Linked DNA regions of Homo sapiens. The protein of the gene in region 1 interacts with the protein of each later gene in a biochemical or structural test. Each region holds a gene or a part of one and is shown on either strand. Other genes may lie near its edges. The genes, in order: PRKCZ, PPP1R14A and PAWR.

What was found.
Region 2: the proteins of PRKCZ (region 1) and PPP1R14A form a complex in vitro, tested with the Homo sapiens proteins (one study listed by BioGRID).
Region 3: the proteins of PRKCZ (region 1) and PAWR form a complex in vitro, tested with the Homo sapiens proteins (one study listed by BioGRID).

The regions. Positions count from the first base shown.
Region 1 is NC_000001.11:2,048,667-2,052,413, reverse strand, and holds the start of PRKCZ (protein kinase C zeta type), read right to left. Parts: upstream 2,004-3,747; 5' UTR 1,784-2,003; coding exon 1,713-1,783; intron 1,659-1,712; exon of another isoform or gene 1,402-1,658; intron 1-1,401. UniProt on the Homo sapiens protein: Calcium- and diacylglycerol-independent serine/threonine-protein kinase that functions in phosphatidylinositol 3-kinase (PI3K) pathway and mitogen-activated protein (MAP) kinase cascade, and is involved in NF-kappa-B activation, mitogenic signaling, cell proliferation, cell polarity, inflammatory response and maintenance of long-term potentiation (LTP).
Region 2 is NC_000019.10:38,254,958-38,258,704, forward strand, and holds the start of PPP1R14A (protein phosphatase 1 regulatory subunit 14A), read right to left. Parts: upstream 1,418-3,747; 5' UTR 1,383-1,417; coding exon 1,182-1,382; intron 1-1,181. UniProt on the Homo sapiens protein: Inhibitor of PPP1CA. Has over 1000-fold higher inhibitory activity when phosphorylated, creating a molecular switch for regulating the phosphorylation status of PPP1CA substrates and smooth muscle contraction.
Region 3 is NC_000012.12:79,621,226-79,624,972, reverse strand, and holds part of PAWR (PRKC apoptosis WT1 regulator protein), read left to right. Parts: intron 1-3,747. UniProt on the Homo sapiens protein: Pro-apoptotic protein capable of selectively inducing apoptosis in cancer cells, sensitizing the cells to diverse apoptotic stimuli and causing regression of tumors in animal models.

The DNA.
Region 1 (3,747 bases):
AGGGGAGAGAGTCCGGGAAGGGAGGGAAGAGGAAGGGGTGGGAGCCTGGTCTCTCCAGCCTGGGAAACCAGAGTCACCGGGTGGAATTACACCCGCCCCACCACCAAAGTGCTCCCAGGGGCCAAAGCAAGGCAGAGGGAGGACGGGGCGGCCCAGAACTCCAGTGGCATTGCCTCCGAGCCTTGGTCCCAGGAATTGGACGCCGGAATGCAGGAGGGTCTGGGCCCCTGCAGCCCCTCGGGTGTGGACCTCCCTCTCGCAGGACTCCCCTGAGCTCCGCACCATCACCTGTTGCCCAGTGTGGTGGCTCCAGAATGGCAAGGAGACAGGAAGCCCAGGTCCCTGGACAAGTCCAATAGCCAGAACGTCAACCATACCAAGTTTTAACCTGCTGACCTCCAGGCCAAAAGACATGGCTGCCCTACCTCTTCAGGTAGGGCTGGACGGTCAGTCCCCCAGAAATCCCTTTCTTCTGGTTCTGGCACCAAACCCGGGCCACTGCACCCCGAAGGTTCCAGGTGCTTGCCACAGGGGAGCTGCAGAGGCCCCAACCTTCCCAAAGAAGAGACAATTGAGCCTCCTCAACAAACCCGGGGCCAAGCAGCCCCAGATGGCTGACCCGAGACCCCAAGACAAGGTTCGCAGGAAGCTGAACCCGCTCAGACTCGCAGGGCACCATAGAGACCCCCGGGGCACTGTCCTGAGAGGACGTGGCCCGGGGAAGTTGTCACCCGCCTAACCCTGCCGGCCGTCCCTGCCTCTGGGGCTCAGGTTGCCCACGCTGTAGCTGAGGACGCACCGGGGCAGGAGCAGCTTTTCGAGATCCCAAGGACCAGCCAGTGCAAGTCCGGAGCCCGCATTCTGCTCCCCTCCCTCTCTGCAGCAGCAGCCACCCTCGCGGGAGCGGAGGTCCCAGTTCGGGGCTCCTGGAGACGCGCACAGGTGGAAGAACAAACCCACGGGTCCTCCCCTCCCCACCGCCCACACTTCGGGGGGCAGCGACCCCTCCGCTGTGCCTGTGAGCCCGGCCACCTGGTGCAGCCCCCGCCACCCCCAGCAGCGCTGCCCCGAGGCGGCGGCCAAGAGTCCAGGACCCCTCCGCTCCAGCACCTGACCGCGCCCCCTCCCACAGCCAGGCAAGGGCCTCCGGGGGGCGGGTGCGACGCAAACCCCAGGGTCAGTCTCGGCCCCACCGTCTCCTCCAGAAACCCCTGTCCCCGCCCGACCGCCCCGAGCCCTGCCGGGGGCTGCATTGGAGCCACAGCGCCCGCGCCCCGGGTCTCCGGATTTTGGCTAAAGCGAGACCCCCGACCGGGTAAACGTGGAGAACGTTTAGGAAACGCTGATTTTAAGAAACCCGCCAGGAGTTTTCACAACTTGATGAAAACTTTCAGTCCTTACAGGTTTGCGGCCGGAACGTCCCCGCCCAACTTTCCAGCGAAAACGTCTACCACAATGACCGGGCCGAGGAGCTCGCGGCGCGGGGCCGACCCCAGGGAAACCCGGTCCCGGGGAAGGAGCCCGCGCTGTCCACGACGTGTCCGCGGGTGACGCTCACGGGCGGGGACCGAGGACCTCCCGCGACAGCCCCGGGCCCGCAGCGACCTCGCCGCCCCTTCCCTCTCTCCCTCTCGCGCAGGAGCCCCGACGGCTGAGCCCTCCCCGCCCTCCCTGCCTCACCCGCGCCGCTCCCCGCCCTCTCCGCCGCTCACCCCCCGTAATGCGCCTTGAGGCGGACGCGGCCGCCGCTCCCTTCCATCTTGGGGCCGGTCCTGCTGGGCATGGCGCGCTCCCCCCGCCGCCGTCAGCGCTGCGCCCCGGGAGCTCCGGCCATGGCGCGGGGCGGGGGCTCCAGGTGGGGCCGCGGCGGAACGCGGAAGGCAGCGCTCAGGACCGACGGCGCCGACCCGGTCAACTCCGCGGAACTCCGGCGGCGCGCGGGGCGGGAGCGGGGGGCGCGCGGGGCGGGACCGTCCGGCGGGGGCGGGGGGCGGTGTCCGAACATGGCGGACCGAGGTGGAGCCAGCGGCCAATCCGCGGGGCGGGCGGTCCCGGGGCGGGCGGTGGCACCTGCGGCCAATGAGGGCGAGGCGGGGCCGCCACCTGGGCCAATCCTCGGGGGACACCCGGCCGCGGCCCAATGGCGAGGCGCGGGCGGGGCTACCTGTCGGGCGGGGCTACCTGTTGGGCGGGGCGCGGCGCACCTGCGCCAATGGGACCGCGCGCGGCGCGGCTCTGCCCGGCAACCGGAGGGGCCCCGGCCTCTGGGACGGAGCGGCGCCCCCGGGAACTCGCTGGAAACGCGAGTTCTCGGCCTTCGCCCAGACCCTCCGAATCGAAACTCCTGCGGCGCGCGCTGCCAGCCCGAGGGCCCCGCCGTCCAGGGGTCCCCTGACATCTCACACTTGCGGACTGAAGCTGCGAGGAGCGGAGAACCCGGCCAGGGTCACGGACGGGAGCGTCCGGACTCGGGTTCTCTGGGCCCCAGCCCCCACTCCGCCCCCAGCGAATCCAAGGTCCCCTGTAGGGAAGGGCCGTCCACACTCGTGAGTGCAACCGCTCACTTCGCCCAGGTCAAGGACGCGGCATTGGCCCGAGTCGCCCATGACCTTCATTTCTGAAGCCACAGCCTCTCGGGCCTTACTCGAGGGGCTTGATCTGGACAATCGCCCTCCAGGCCCCTCCACCGCCGCCCAGCTCCCTGCCTCCTGGGCTCCTCCCCTGAAAATACGGTTTTCCCTGATCAGCCCATCCCTTACTGGCTGCATCCACTGAAGCCCAGACCTGCTGCCTGCAGGACCTCACCCAGGCACCAGGTGGACACCCAGACCCAGTTCCTGGCCTCGGCCCCTCTCCCCTGAGAGTGGACCTGCTCAGGCCACGCCCTCACACCCCTCACCCAGACACAGCCACCAGGACTTCAGCCACGTGCTTTCATCCCGCAGGTCGTGCCTGGCGCCTCCTTGATGCCAGGCCCTGGGGAGACCTGTGGCCACAGAACCCATGTTCTCCCTGGAGATGGACAGGAGGCCCCTCTCCTACGCAGAAGCTGTCGTTTTTTCTTCTTAAACACCGTTTGCCCCTCCCTCCACCCACCGAGCCATCTCTGCCCCTCTCTACAGCAAAGCTTCCGCCAAGCCGGCCCTGCTCCCTGTCTACCTCTCCTGCCACCACCCACTCACACGTTTTAAATACAAGCCGTCGGTTCTCAGACGTTTTCTCTTTTTTTCTTTCTTTTTCTTTTTTTTGAGATGGAGTTTCGCTCTTGCTGCCCAGGCTGAGTGCAATGGCATGATGTCGGCTCACTGCAACTTCTGCCTCCTGGGTTCAAACCATTCTCCTGCCTCAGTCTCCCAAGTAGCTGGGATTACAGGTGTCCACCACCATGCCCAGCTGATTTTTGTATTTTTAGTAGAGACGGGGTTTTTCCATATTGGCCAGGCTGGTCTCGAACTCCTGACCTCAGGTGATCCACCTGCCTTGGCTTCCCAAAGTGCTGGGATTACAGGCGTGAGCCACTGTGCCCGGCCTCAGACATTTTCTTAACTTGGCCTTTGGTATCAGACCCCTCCTGGGAAGGCTCACACATCCCTGGCCCCGGGTTCCAGCTCCCTAAATCTCCCATCCCTCGCCCTCCTGGTCTGCAGCTTTTAAAACTGTGGAGCCCCAGCCTCAGCCTTTGGCCCGCTTTGCATCCCCAGCTCAGATGGGCCCCCTGAGCTCCCAACCAACACTCACCCAGCCCCA
Region 2 (3,747 bases), on another chromosome or scaffold:
TTTTTTAGTAGAGACGGGATTTCTCCATGTTGATCAGGCTGGTCTCAAACTCCTGACCTCAGGTGATCCGCCCGCCTCGGCCTCCCAAAGTGCTGGGATTACAGGCGTGAGCCACCGTGCCCGGTGCTTACACAGTTTTATGTCTGGGTGTAGTTATAAATTCTGTTGGGTTTTGTTTGTTTTTGAGACACGGTCTCGCTCTGTTGCCCAGGCTGGAGTGCAGTGGTGCAATCTTGGCTCACTGTGACCTTGGCCTCTCAGGCTCAAGCAATCCTCCCACCTCAGCCTCCTGAGGAGCTGAGATTACAAGTGCGTGCATGCCACCACGCCCGGCTAAGTTTTAAGATTTTTGGTAGAGACAGGTTTTCCCCATGTTGCCCAGGCTGGTGTTGAACTCCTGACGTCAAGCAATCCTCCTGCCCCGGCCTCACAAAATGCGTGAGCCACTGTGCTGGGCCAATTTCTGTTGTTTTATGTCTTTGAGTGGCTGCGGATCAGCGCTTGTGCTTGAAGGTGGTCAGTTTTTTCTTTAGGAGATAAGGAAGGGCCGTAACTTGAGTCATTTTGTGTTCCAGTGGGGTTGTGCTGTGTCTGCCTACGGCTGTGGCCCATGCCGCTGTGTCTGCGGGTGGCTGTGACTGTAGCATATGTTGAACTGTAGGTGACCCCCCCCCAGCCCCCGCTTGTGTCCTTGTGGGTTTGTGCATGGCTGTTACTTCTGGGCTGTGTCCGTGAGTGGCTATAGCTTCCTTCACTGTGCACATCTGTGTCTGCTTTTGCTTCCTTTGCCGTGGGTCTCTGTGTGGCTGTATCTCCCCTGTCACCATGTCTGTGTTTGGCTTTATGACACCCCCCTTCCCCCACTCTTTCTCCAGACGTGGCGGTTTCAGCTCAACTTAGCCTCCTCCCTCCTCATGCTAAACCCCTGGCCCTCCACAGGCGTTTGGACACATCTCTGGAGACCCAAGTCTTTGTGTGTTGCTCTCGGTGTGTCCACAAGCACAATGCCATAGAGCACGGATGGCCAGGCCAATGAGTGCCCGGCCCTGGGGCGCTCGTCCTCTTGTGCAGACCAGGCTGGCCGTGCACCAGCGAGTGTGCACCGAGACCCCAAGGGCGTGGGGTCTCCGCGCCCGGGCTCTATCTGTCCCCGACCACCCCCGAGCCCTCCCCGGGCTCACCATGCCGCGGTACAGCTCCTCCAGGCGCCCGTCGATCCACTTCTCCACGTCCAGCCGCCGCTGCAGCTCCCGCCGGTCATACTTGACGGTGACGCGCGCGTGCCGCTTCTGCAGCCCCCCGGGACTGCCCCCTGGCCCGCGGGCCCGCGATGGAGACTGCAGCTTGCTCAGCACGCGCTTGCCCAGCCGCTGAGCTGCCATCGCGCTGCTGGACCCAGCCTGGCCCCGCGCTGTGCGCCTTCGCCTCGCGCCCCGGGTGCTTCTTACGGGCCAGGGCGGGGCTAGCCGGGGGCGGGGGCTCGGGCTCGCCGGGAGGTCTGCCCCACCCCGGCCGCCTCAGGCCTCAGTTTCCCCGTCTGCAGTGCGAGAGTAGGCCGCTGCGTCGGCTTGAGGCACGCAGTCGTGCGAAGTTGAGGTATGGGCGGGGACCCAGAGTCCCGGGCGGGTCCCTGCATCGGGGGCTCCCGGGCCGGGATCCTGTGGGGCGGGGGCCTGGGACAGACACTCGGGACCCGGCCTGTCTGCGCCCTCTGGCGGTGGCGGGGTGGGGGGCTGTTGGTGCGGGAGCGCCTGCGCCGCTGTCGCTGTAGAAGGTCGAGCGGTCACTTGTTCCTTCGTTCATTCATTCACTCATCCATCCATTTGTTTGTTCACTCATTCCGTTCAACGAATTTTTTTTTTTTTGAGTCGATGTCTCTCTTTGTCGCCCAGGCTGGAGTACAATGGCGCGATCTCGGCTCACCGCAACGTCCGCCTCCCAGGTTCAAGCGATTCTCCTGCCTCAGCCTCCGAAGTAGCTGGGATTACAGGGATGCACCACAACACCCGGCTAATTTTTGTATTTTTAGTAGAGACGGGATTTCGCCATGTTGGCCAGGCTGGCCTCGAACTCCTGACCTCAAGTGATCTGCCTGCCTCCGCCTCCCAAAGTGCTGGGATTACAGGCGTGAGCCACCGCCACTGGCCCGGTTCAACGAATATCTATTAAGTATCCACTCTATACCAGACACTGCTTTACGCTCCAGGGATAGAGCAGGGAACAAAACAGACAAAACCAGTCCCACGCAGTTGACAGTTGTAGCCGGGATACATGAGAAACACAGTAAGTACGGTATTATACAGTTTATTATCATATAAGTGCTTTGGAGAAATATAAAGCAGAGAAGGAGAAATGGAGTGAGGGTAAGGTTGCAATTTTAGCGAGGGTGGCCAGGGAAGTCCCTTACTTCAAAACAGTCTTCTCACTTCTAATTATAAGCAGCAATAATTATACTCTAAAATTTAAATGTGGCTGGGCGCAGTGGCTCACTCCTGTAATCCCAGAACTTTGGGAGGCCAAGGAGGGTGGATCACGAGGTCAGGAGTTCAAGACCAGCCTGGCCAACATGGTGAAACTCCATCTCTACTAAAAATACAAAAATTAGCTGGGCCTGGTGGCACATGCCTGTAATCCCAGCTACTCGGAAGGCTGAGGCAGGAGAATCGCTTGAACCCGGGAGGTGGAGGTTGCAGTGAGCCAAGATAGCACCATTGCACTCCAGCCTGGGCAACAAGAGCGAGACTCTGTCTCAAAATAAATAAATAAATAAAATAATAATAAATAATTTTTTTAAAAAGGCCAGGCATGGTGGCTCATGCCTGTAATCCCAGCACTTTGAGAGGCCGAGGTGGGCAGATCACGAGGTCTGGAATTCAAGACCAGCCAGGCCAACATGATGAAACCCCATCTTTACTAAAAATACAAAAAAAAAAAAAAAAAAGCCAGGCGTAGTGGTGTGCACCTGTAATTGCAGCTACTGGGGAGGCTGAGGCAGGAAAATTGCTTGAACCCAGGAGGCAGAGATTGCGGTGAGCCAAGATCGCACCACTGCACTCCAGCCTGGGTGACAGAGCAAGACTCCATCTCAAAAAAAAAAAAAAAAATTGTAGAGACAGGGTCTCCCTATGTTGCCTAGGCTGTTCTCCAATTCCTGGGCTCAAGCGATCCTCCCACCTCGGCCTCCCAAGGTGCTGGGATTATAGGCATGAGCCACCTCACTCCACCAGCCAGCCATAATGTAAAACTTTTGAGTTTCAAAGAACATCATCAAGAAAGTGAAGAGACAACCCATGGAATGGGAGGAAAAAAATTGCAGTCATGAAACTCATAAGGTGCTGGGACGAGCCACCACACCTGGCCAAACTATACACTTTAAAAAGGTGAGTTGGGCCAGGCACAGTGACTCACGCCTGTAATCCCAGCACTTTGGGAGGGCAAGGCGGATGGATCATCGGAGGTCAAGAGTTAGAGACCAGCCTGGCCAACATGGTGAAACCCCATCTCCACTAAAAATACAAAAATTAGCTGGGCATGGGGGCACATGCCTATAATCCCAACTACTCAGGAGGCTGAGGCAGGAGAATCGCTTGAACCTGGGAGGGGGATGTTGCAGTGAGCTGAGATCATGCCATTGCACTCCATCCTGGGCAACAAAAGTGAAACTCCATCTCTAAATAAATAAAGGGTGAGTTGTATGGTATGTGAGTTATATCTCAATAAGACTGTGTTTTTTTTTTTTTTTTTTTT
Region 3 (3,747 bases), on another chromosome or scaffold:
ATTCATTTACCTTGTGAGCCAGCAATCCTAATACTAAGAATCTATCCAGGAAATCCATTGCATATATACAGAAACTATATATATAAGCCTTTCTAACACATTTTTCTTAGAGCGTGTAAAAAACCCAAATGTTCATCAATAAAGCTCTGATTAAAATATGGTAGGTACATCTATTTAATAAAATTATTATGCAGCTGAAGAAAGGAATGAGGAGAATCCACTTCTCTTAAGTATGGCAGATACAGGAATTCTCTTATTTCTCATGATTTCCGCCAACTTCTTCCTCCAGATGTATTTATCCCAGTTAGAAAAGATTGCTTAAGAATTTCTAGGATGCTTGTTATCAAAAGAACTGCACTGGTTGCTAGCAGAATTTTGGAGAGAAGTTGTGATTCATCAAGTAATCCTATACTAAAAGCTGCCTGGAACGTTAGATACATACTGTATCCACAGGGATACTATGTGTGATGAATAGGTTCCCAGTTCAGTGGATAGCAGTGTTGCCATGGGAAAGAGCATTCAGAATTTTAACTTCAGGTATCACAGTTCACCTTCCAGTTCATCTCCAAGATGATTTGTCTCATCTTGGTAACTCATTCATTGTTTTATGAAACATTTACCGAGTGTTTTGTTTCTTCCTTTCTTTTTTCTTTTAATATACTGGTAAGGGAGTCTAGTTGAGGGGGCAGGAGGAGGGAAAGTTAGTGTTGTGGGGCTGGGTCTCAGAAAATGAAAACAAAGACAAATAAAATAGCATCCCAGTGCTCTGGGAGTGCGTGGCTACCTGCCTCAACTTTTGCTTTCTGTTAATATTAATCTATGATAATTTAAGAATTCCAACTTTAAGCTAATGATGTTGGAGCCTAGGTGAGGGATTTTTGAGTCCATATGCTGGAGAATAAGTGATGATTGCTTTCACACAGTAGAAGACTAGAGATGAGACCATTCTTTATTCTTTTCCAGATCTCATACTTTTGCTTCTCCTACTGTTCATTAAATGATTGACCTCTCCTCCCCCTTTTAAAGCAACTCCTTGATTTAAAATGCCTTTTATGCTATTTTATTCTTTCTGTTCTAGGACCTCTATCAGGTATTTTTGTTATTGTAGTTTTATACATTTTAACATTAACTAGAGTGTTTGGTCATACCTCTTTTTTAAAAAAGTAATTTTTTTGATATCTTATGTATTTTTTCTTCCAGATGATGCACCACTACTTTCCAAATAAATTTCTTCATGATTTTGATTGGAATTTTAATTTATGTGTTAAGAGACTGTTGACACCTTCACAATACTAGATTTTTCTTAAGAGCAGGTTTTAATTTGTATTCTTCAGTAAAGTCTTATAGCTTTTTTCATGCACGTACTGTTTTTTAGTTTTTTAATGGTTGTTACTAAAAATTTTGTAACTGGCTATTGATGTTACTTTGGGAAATTTTTTGCTTATTTACTGAAAAAAATCTTAACTCATAATTCTAAAATGTTTTTGTTTTTTACAAAATCATTTCCTCTGATGGTAATTTTGCCTCCTTTCTAATGTTAAAATCGCCTATTCTTCTTACCTAGTTCTATCAACTAGCACTTTCAGAATGATGTTAACAATTATGTTAATAGTGGACATCAATGTCTTGAGTCTGATTTTACTTTAAATTTTGCTGGTATGTTGTCATTAAACAAGATATTGTCTAGTGATTTGAGAAAGTTTTTGAAAGTCCTGAGAGAGATTTTTTTTTTCTAATAAGGACTAATTTCTTAACACTTTGGTGTCCCATACCAGATTTCTTTCACTGACTCTGTTTCCACCTATGATATATCATTTTTCATAGGATACAATTGCCTATGTCATTTAACTAGTCACTTAACTAGTCTTTTCACTTTTGGTCTTGTTCCTGTTCTCTGCATTGCTATTTCCAGGTTCTTCCCAAAAAGAATTTTGATCATTCCTTATCCCAAGGAACTGTATAGCATTGTAACATCATTCCAAGCTATGGAGTGAGAAGTCTAAACTTCTTGGGTTATCTATTATTTATGTTCCCTCTATGCCTTTCGAGTCCTCACTTTTGTCAAAAACTGTAATGGCTTTGAGATCATACCCCACTTGCTGGCTAACACGTTAGCTTGTGTATGCTGGCAAAAGATACTAGTCTCCTGGGTTAGTTAGAGTCAAGAACAGTTTAGACTCAGCAATAACAGTAGCTACAGTATCATAATTTTCTTGTGCTGTTTCCCCAAGCCCCACTCTTGGCAGGTTGATATGACAAGGGCCAGGTGACACCAAATCTCAACCTGCATGCTCCTTTCATTTGCCCTTTCCATTTCTGTCCTCAGACTTCTCTGTATCATCCTAATGTTGTAAGACTCCATCTCAGCTAGAAACCATCATTCTGAGCAAACTATCACAAGGACAGAAAACCAATCACTGCATATTCTCACTCGTAGGTGGGAATTGAACAATGAGAACACTTGGACACAGGGTGAGGAACATCACACTCTGGGACCTGTCGTGGGGTTGGGGGAGAGGGGAGGGATAGCGTTAGGAGATACACCTAATGTAAATGACGAGTTAACGGGTGCAGCACACCAACATGGCACATGTATACATGTGTAACAAACCTGCACATTGTGCACATGTACCCTACAACTTAAAGTATAATAATAATAAAAAATAATAAAAAACACTCCATCTCAGACAGATGCTTTCTTCCATGTCCTCCATTGTAGACCTTGTCTTTATCAAGCTTGGTACCCCTTTCAGTATGTTCCTCCTATCTCCAAATATTCCAGTGCACCTTCTTGGTTTGCACAATGGCTTCAGTGTTTTCTTCTCTCTGCACAACTTTTTTTTTTTGTCCAATTCCTATTGTCTTCACTGCCATACTGTTATACTTTGCTGTGATCAGTTCCTTAGTGTCTCTACAAAGAGGTGTGTGGTTTTTTTTGTTTTTGTTTTTGTTTGTTTATTTGTTTTTGTCTGGAGGGGGTGTGAGTTCTCATGCAGAAACCTTTAGGGCAGTGTATTGGTTAGGAATGTATTCAGTTGCAAGGAACGGATAACCCAGCCCATGATGTGTATAATGGATAGAGATTTGTTTCTATTTTGTTTTTCTTATGTAGAAAGTGTAGAGTTAGATAATTTCTAGTGTTGCTTCTGTTTTTTAGCAGCCTTCTCTTGTAAGCTTTTCCAATATGCTGTTACATGTGTAATTCTCTTTTTTTATATATCTGCAATTCCAAATTGTAGCCATTCTTTAAATTACAAGATTTTTTATAGTCTTTTCTAACTCTCCAGGTAAAAATACTCTTCCTTTATATGCTCATAGAATATAAAGCTAGAAACTGGGCCTTTATCACTAAGTTATCTATCTATCTATATATATGTATTATCTTTCCTACTAGATTATAAATTCCATTTCTTTAATGCATCCTTTGTTACCTTCTGCAGAATGCCTTGTTTAAGGTAGACGTAGTTTACTTATTGAATGAATGATAAAGAATGAATAAACCTTTCCTTTAAGAAAACCCTGTCACTGATGTTTGGAGTTTAGGGAAAAGATTTGTTGGCAGTGGTGTGGATATGGAAGTACAAGTTTTAAGCAGATAATTTATAGGAATTAAATGTACATATTGCTGAAAGAAAAATACTTTTATTATGCAAACTAATTTCTGAATGCACAAATATTTCTTTAATACTATCAATATATTTTCACATATTATCGAAACAGTCTATTAATAGTAGAAATAAAATGGAA